Regions from separate parts of the Homo sapiens genome. Here region 2 is linked to region 1. Evidence: fine-mapped expression QTL. A gene starts in region 1. The other region holds a variant in brackets. All regions are shown on one strand. Distances are from middle to middle.

The links.
Region 2: its variant is fine-mapped to the expression of CHRM3-AS2 in activated naive CD4 T cells (Schmiedel 2018, PIP 0.93).

Annotation. Positions count from the first base shown.
Region 1 is chr1:239,717,081-239,721,500 of GRCh38, forward strand. CHRM3-AS2 (CHRM3 antisense RNA 2) reads right to left here and starts at 2,039. Exons shown (of 3, transcript NR_103776.1): 1 at 1,870-2,039. The region is part of intron 5 of CHRM3 (cholinergic receptor muscarinic 3); the gene reads left to right.
Region 2 is chr1:239,685,907-239,690,326 of GRCh38, forward strand. The region is part of intron 5 of CHRM3 (cholinergic receptor muscarinic 3); the gene reads left to right. Among named protein-coding and RNA genes, the nearest start is that of CHRM3-AS2, 31 kb to the right of the region's middle. The variant TATACAC/T (reference allele first, on the strand shown) is at 2,274.

The DNA.
Region 1 (4,420 bases):
CATTTTCCAAAAAAGAAAAAGTTCAAATGTAAGATCTGAGTTGAATTGTGAGCTTCTCTAACGGTGTTCTTGGATTCATTTTTCAACTGCAAAAGATTGAGATCCTGAATAAGGCTTATGGGTGTATTAAAACTGTGCCCTTGCAGAGGAAGTAGCCTTGAATAGTTATTGGCTTTGAAAGCAACCAGTTTTGTTGACTTAATTATGCTGGTACCAGGAAAGCATAGAATAGATCCTGTTGATAACAAGAGCCATGCTGGACATTAACAGTTTCACAGAGAGTAGTGGGGACCATTTCTTTGGAATAAAGTTGAAACATGTTTCTTAATAGACAACTCTCTCAGCATTATAAAATCCTGATACAGAACTCAAGGAAAGACACACACGCACACACACACACACACATGATTTTTATCGTTGTTATCTTAGTAAATAATGACTAATGTGGTTTTTGGTTGTTATCAGTTGGTTACGGATTGGAGTTAACATTTCATCAGATCTGAGCAATAACCTATGTGGTAAAGTCCTAGTGTGGCAGGAATTTGGGATTCAAGGGGGGTGCTTATATAATCTGCTTTCTTAAGGTAAGGTTTGCTCTTTTATGCTACCTGTCATTTCTGCCTTAAACAATGTCCGGGAAATTCAGCCACACACAACAAAGAACCAGATCCCTCATTTCGGTTCTATCCTTCCTCCTCTAGAACTGACATTCCTTGGGGCCGTGTCCTCAAGTGACGTGTCCTGCTCTAGCTAAATGGCAGTAATCTGTGTTTGACTCCAGCAGTTTATCAAGCTATGTCATTTTATGCCATGTCAGTTTATAGAGAGTGGCACAAGATACAACAGGATAGGGAAGCTGAGTTTTCTATTTGTCTACTTCATTGAAAACATGATTTTGTTTACTGACAAGTAAATGGTATAGGTGTAAGGAAAGAGTAGCAACTACCATATTATTTTGCCAGAATCCTCATGTTACCGTTTCAAAAAATGCCAAGAAAGATGACAGTGCATGTTATAACATCCCTTACAAATAATAGCAAAGCTTTAATCAGCTGCTACACAGACACACTCAGGATTGAAATGCAACCTACTAGGGTGAAACATGACAAGCGGTTCATTGAACACTGCGCAGAAGGTAAATGAAGTGTATATTTTCCAATCACAACTGGAATTTTAAGTGAGTGAAATGGAATAAACTCAGTTTGGAATTTGAAATAAATTCACCATGGAATGTGTCTTAGAGACCAAGGTTTACACTAGCGCTATACAAACTCCTCAGCGTGAAACATGACACAAGGTGAAATTTTCCTGGCATCTTAGAGTCAGATACTGACTTCTGAAGGACCAGGGCACAGACATTTCATCAAGAGCTATTTGTTTCTAATTGGGGAAGAAAATACAGATGTTTATATAATACTCTGGGTCAGGAGTAATATTCCACCTGGTACATGGAGTTTTGTACACTTTTTCAGAGGTGGTATTTCTAGCTGAGTGTTAGCAGTAAAACATTTTCATCAAATTTCCATTCTTTTTTTTTTGAAGCCTACTTGCATAGTTCTAAGGAGTGTCATAGCTCACACATAGTGACACTGATTAGTAAAAATAAGAAGTGATTGAAGAAAACACAAGGAAAGAATCAACTTGAAGTCATTCAGAAGTAACCACTAGTAGCAATTTAACTACCCTGTTGCCAAAGCTCTTTTCTTAAATTACAGATCCTCATGAGCTAGTAAGTTTGAAGGGGAGTCATAAAGAGGAACAGGCATTATACGCAAGGCTGAAGAAGCAGTTGGTAACTAACAGTACATCTTTTTCTAAGGTAAGTTTAAGGTCACAAAAAGACTTAATGTACAGAGTTGAAAAACTTACATATTTCTTAGAAGCTTAGAAGTTATGAGTTTAGTTGGGGCTCCAGGAAGATGCAAGATGCTAGACTCCAAAAAATAAGAGAGAGGTCCAGTGTAGAATAACACTCTATAGATTAAAGGAGGACTCAAGAGTAGAGGAAAAACTTAGCAAAATACAGGGCTATGAGTTAGGTGTTCCTAGTTAGAGTCTGAGTGTCCGGAAATGATGAAATGGGTGAGCTCCAAGAATGCAGGATATGTGAAATTGGTAATCAGATCTACTGGTTTGCTTGTTCTGAGTGTATCGTTAGGGTTTTTGGGGACTGGTGTTAGTGGTGTTGGCAGAATTAGTCCCCTGCTCTTGGTTATACCTGTCCACTTTAAACAGTAGCTTGTAGTTATTTAGCCCTTAATTGCATTCAGGTAAAACCAATATAGCACCCTATAATTCAGCAAATATTTGTTTTCCTGGCAGTATTACAGTTTCAGGGGGCAGTTCTAAGGTGATTACAGTTTCCACTGCTTGGAGCTTTCTGTATATTTATCCTTGGATTAGACTCAAAGTAAGCTGATTTTATCAAGCCACCGGGTAATTCTGACCATTTCATCTGGCGATTTTAGTACGGTATTGTTGCAGCTGACCTGTATACGTAAGGAATTACTGGGTCATCAGCTCTGGGGAATGTCTTTTGATTATGAACACATTTTCAGCATGTGTCCACTGAAGGTAAGGGGCAAAGAATTGCACGATCTACTTGAATGCCTGTTTAAATAGATAAAAGTGGGATTTTGGGCACGGCCTGGTTATATCTTCTTAAACGTAGGTAGTAGAGCCGCAACTCAGCGTAGCAACAAGAGATCTTTTGAACAACTGAACATTCAGATGAAGCAACTATGTCCTTCAAACCACATCCTTCCTGCTGCCTGTGGGAAAGGGGTGATATTTGTGTTGAGCTCTGAGCACATGCAGAATAGATCTGTGTGTATTTCCACAAATAAAAGGACATTGTGTGTGTGTTTGGCACCTGGGATGGCAAAAGCAGTTAATTGCTTCCGAAAGCTTTGTTCCAACCCAGGGATCGGCAGGATTTTTAAGCACTGAACTAGGAACTGGGCACTAAAAATACTTATGCAGAAGACCTATGATAGCAGTAAGTTTACAGAGCAGAGCTAAGACTTGCAAACCGTGTTGTATCTGTGTCTTTACTTACTATGGTTGAGAGGAAAGGATTTACACGCTGCGTTTGCAACCTGCAAAGTAATGAGCCGTGTTGTAGTAACATTTTGAGATATTGTATGTTGTGTTGTTTATATGAGGATCATTCAGAATATATAGAATATAAGTATATGTTTTTCTAAAACAAAAAACTTTGCCCTAGTTTCTTTGCATATATTGTTCACATCATGTTCATATAGTCACTGGCAGTTAATGATTTTTGTCATTTAGTCAGAAACAAAGTAGTGCTCTGCCTCTGAAACCCCAAAAAAACCTAAATTAAAGTAAAATTAAAAGATGTATTAAAATTAAACTTGGATTATCAAAATGAAACAGTAATGCTCTCGTGCCACTCAACGCCAGACTTTTCATGTTGCAGATAGCAAGTGAACAGAAAGCTAAGCATGAACATATTTTAAATGCTCCTGATATTTTCAAATGCTTAATCCTAAGCCTTAAAGGGTTTTATCTATAGAGATTTGGGGAATTTCAGTGTTTCTTTTTCTTATTTTAGATTTCCTGTTAAGTTATTCTCCAGAGTTTTTATATAAAATGCACGAATAAGCATGATTTAACGAGAAGACAAAGTCTTAAGTGCTGTAATTCATGTTGGAAATCATGAGTATTTTTAAGTCTTCTTACTTATAATCAAAGTGGTCATCTCCTGAATATAATGAAAATAAGAGCAAGTGATAGCCCCTTATCTTTATTTAAATATGCTTTATCTGCAGGAGTTTGAACAACTCAGGCAAGGAAATATTTTGTTGAGAGGCAAGATGCATTTTTAAATTTATTTTTGCTTAATATGTGCTCAACTTAAATTGATTTGAGAACATATATTTAAGCAAGGTCTTCATAAATTATTATAAAATGAGAATTGTATATTGTGACATGTTTAATAATCATGATTTTATTCCAGTGATCCAATAAAAGGAGTGCTCAATTGAAGGAATGGAAATGTGTCAAAAAGCCCAAACTCTGCACAGTATAATGATTCCTAATTCTCAAAAAATCCAATGGGTTTTAGTTTCTAAAAGTGATACGATAAAAGAGTACAGAGTCTCTCTCTAATTCTGTGAGTGAAATTCTCTTTAGAGGGAATGCTGAATAAAAAAGATAAGATCAGGGAAAGAGGTGAAAGAAATGTTCTTCTCCAGTTCACCTTACATTAGGAGTCAACTTTTACCCAAGCTCAGGCAAAGTTACTTATATGAGAATCCCGGTACTTCAGGATGGAGAGAATGAGAAACAAGAAAATGATAGGCATGGTATTAAATCTTAGGTATGGCAATTCTATTGAGCAACATTAATGTTTTGGAAGGTTCTAAATCATAATAAGAAGTATGTATCTCATGCA
Region 2 (4,420 bases), 31 kb before region 1:
GCCATTGTTGCCTTCTCATCTCAACTGAATGATGGGCAACAGAGCAAGACTCCATCTCAAAACAAACAAAGACAAAAACAAAAACAAACAAACAAAAAAACTGTGTTCTGTCGTTGACTCCCCATCACGCCTCCTGCCACTGGTTGCCTTCTCATCTCAACTGAATGACTCTAATATGCTCTTTAATAGTCTCCTTCATGATCTTTCTACCATCAGTTTTGTCTCACATTAATTTCTCCTCTGCACTGATTCCAGAGTAATCTATAATTTTAAAAAAATGGACTTCTGTTACTCACTACCTTAAAAACTCTTGATTCCATGGTGCCTATAGGCGCTTTGTTCTATAAACTTATCATAAAACAGCAGAGTTTCTATGGGAGCTCATCTGAAGCTGTTCCCTTCTGTGAATCATATGTTCCACTGCTCCAGTATTTTATGATTTTCTGGGAATTATCTAAACAGTATACTTGCATGTGCTGCTCATCCTGCCTGGACTACACAGAGCCCTCTTTCCTGGGAAATTGGTGTTCACCTTCAAGACTCAGATCCAGTGTCACCTGTTCAGTGATGCCTATCCCTCCTTCTGCTCACCCTTCCCTGGGCAGAGTTAAAAGTTCTCCATGTCTTTCCCCAGAGCCCTTCCTTCATATTTACGCAGAATTCACCACTCTGCACTATACTTTATCAATTTCATTTATTGCTACTCCTCAGACTGTGAGTTCCTTGAGGACTGGAATCCTCACCATATTCATCATAGTACTTTGTCCCTAATGGCAGTGCAAAGTGGTCACTGAATAAATGCTTTCTGGTTGAATTTTAACGGATCCATGAATTTCTTGATTTATCATCATTTTACAGCTAGGGAAATTATGCAATCAACTAATTTGCTCCACATTCTGGAGCATTCAGAAAGATCAGCAGAGAGTTTCATTAACTTGAACTGCTACTGACTGCCCCATTCACCTGTTGGAAGAAAGTTCAAATAGAGAAAAATGTAATATACCTGCTTTCTAAGATTTTAATAGCTTTAATAACAGGGAATGGCATTCAATTTACTTCATATTATTAACATAAGTGCTTTAAAATATATGATGCTCTCTTAAGAAAAATAGCTATTACTTAATATCAAATGTTATCCATTCATTCAATATGTATTGATTGTCTTAATATATGTAAGATTATCTATTACATTATTATTTTATTGATACTATATTTTAATAATAATAAAATAATAATATGCTTGGAAAAATAATAAAATGGTAGCTATGTCCTTTGATGTCCAAGAATAATTGATCCATTTTTACTAAGAATATTTGTACAAGTTTTATATTTGATTTATCACTTTAGTTTATTTGTTAATAACTCATTTTAATGGCAGCCCCTGCCACTTTTGTAACTCTGGTGGTGGTTCAGAGATTATTCATTAGCATGCTTTATAAGTGATAATATTCCAGGGCAATATCATGTAGTATTGCTAATCCGTCGTTATTTATCAGAGCATCATGGTCTTTCTGAGTGAATTAGATCATATTGATAGTACTTAGAAATACTAAAATTAATCATTAACTTACTGCATAGTTAATTCCATTCTTTTTAAGTTTCAAACTCTTTAACATTGAACAAATTTAACAAATTTGCCATATGTACATTATGAGGTCATAAAAACATGCCTTTATTAATATAAATGTGACATGTTTTAACCAGGGACAGTTAAGAAAATATTCATTAGAGTTTACACACATAGCCACGTGCTGCATAATGATGCTTCAGTCAAAGGCAGACCACAATAGAACAGTGCTCCCATAACATAATAACTACTGTTTCTATGTTCAGATATGTTTAGATAGCACAAATACCATTGTGTTACAATTGCCTACAATACTCAGTATAGTAATATGTTGCATAGGTTTGTAGCCTAGGAGCAATGGGCTATCCCATATAACCTAGGTATGTAGTAAACTATGCCATCTAGGTTTGTGTGAGTACCCTCTATGATGTCCACACAATAATGAAATTACCTAATGACACATTTCTTAGAACATGTTAATGTCGCTAAGTGATGCATGGATGTATGTTCTTACCACCATCAAATACGACTGCTCTTAAATGTGTCATGAATACTGATGCTTCACATTAATACACAAAACTGCTCTTAAGGTAGTTGCCAGCCTGAAAAAAATTGGGAGTTTTGATACTTTGTTACTTTTTCTTTTAATATATTGCAAGGTTTTTCACTGATCTATTTGCAGAAGGAAAAAAATACATATATATAA[TATACAC/T]ATACACATACACATGTATTATATATAAAACACATGCACATATATGTATTATATAATCTATTATTAAATAATATATAATACATATATACACATATATATGTATATGTGGGTATTTTATATATATGTACGTATAGATATTTGTGTGTGTTTGTGTGTGTGTGCATATATATTCCCGTTAATTTGAAAGCATTGTTTTGGGTTTTAAATATATAAATATAAATATGTATATAAATATATATAAATATATTTACATATCATATTTATAAATATATTATATTATATATTATATATTATTCAATATACTATAATATATATTATATATGTTTAATACAATATATAATATTTACATATATTCCCATTTATTTATATAACATATATTATATGATATTATATATTACTCCATATAATATAATATATTATACATAATATATTACTCAGTATAATACATAATATATATAATATATTACTCGGTATAATATATAATATTATATGTTATGCAATATAATATATAATATTATATATAATACATTATTCAATATAATATATAATATTATATATAATACATTATTCAATATAATATATAATACACTATTCAATATAATATACAATATTATATATAATACATTATTCAATATAATATATATTATATAATATATATATTTATATATTTTATTTTTATATATTATATATTTATATATGTATATATAATATACATTTCTAAATTATTTTAAGTCATTTTGTATTCTTAGGATAGTTAAACTTGCCCTGCAATCTTATTTATTTCCTTGCTTTTCATATACAATGAAAGTGTATATGACTTTGGCTTGCAGTATTATGATAAATTCACCATTGATTAAGTCATAATTAAAGATTGCTATTCAAAGATTCAAAAATTAAAGATGGTAATTAAAGTATACTACCTTCTTTCTAATACAATACTACTACATTTATTTACAAATTCTCTAACCCTTTCTATGGGAGTTTTCAATAACAATTAGAGTAAAAATGTGATTTGTTTTAATGTTAATAATCACTAATCTTTTTTGTTGAAAAATATAGGATGAGATTTTTCTCAGTTTACTTTTTTTTCAGAGAAGGATTCTATATTGAAATGTCAAAAATGTAAGATGCAGGAGGATAAGGAACCAATGTTGCCTTAGCTTTGAGTACTTCCTTTGTGCACGCAGAAAGACTGACATTCAAATTTAGGCTAAATGTTGCTTACATAAAGGAATGAAAAAATGAATAAAAATATAAATTTCTCTAAAGTATTTTTTAATAAGAGTTAAAAGGATTACAAAATAGCAGCGTTTGTGAAATAGATTTTTAATATTGCTGCACATTAGAAAACATACAGTTATGCCTCAAATGTATTCAACTTATGTTGGAGGAGGGATTTCGTTTACTTCCACAACTTTGCACTACGTCTTCAGAGAGTTTGCTTTCTCTTTCTCAGAGATCCTAACAGCGGGATATCTATTGACTGCATATTCTGTGCCAAACATTCTTTTAGGCATTGATGCTAACACAGCAAATAAAACGGAAAAGCCTGTGCCTTTGTGGAGGTTATATTCTGGTAGAGGAAGGTGTAAAGTACTAGGATACACATGTAGATATTCCGTGTCCAGGGTACGGATTTCAGTCAGCAGCTGTCCAATTAGGGGAGATTTGGGAATATACCATGTTATTTTATGCCAATTCAAAGCCTGGGAAGAGGCAAGATTGCCCAGGGAGATCACATGGAGTGAGAGGAGGTAAGAACTCTAGGACTGCCCATGCTTCTGAGCCCATAACATCCCAGAACACGCTTAAAGGATCACTTGACACTAAAACAGAGAGAGAGAGACAGAGAGAGAGACACAGAGAGAGAGAGAGAGAGAGACAGAGAGAGTTGTTGGGTGGAGTTCTCCTTTTCTTCAAAGGCAATACATTCTCCTTCTGCCATACCATCCAGAATTTCATGGATTCACATTTCAATTTATTTCTCCAACTTTGTATGAGAGCAAGTTTTTGGAGATATAATACTTGAAATTTCTTTTCATTTATTTTATTTTATTTTAGAGACAGAGTCTCTCTGTCACCAGGCTGGAGTGACGGGATCTCGACTCACTGCAACCTCCGCCTCCCAGGTTCAAGCAATT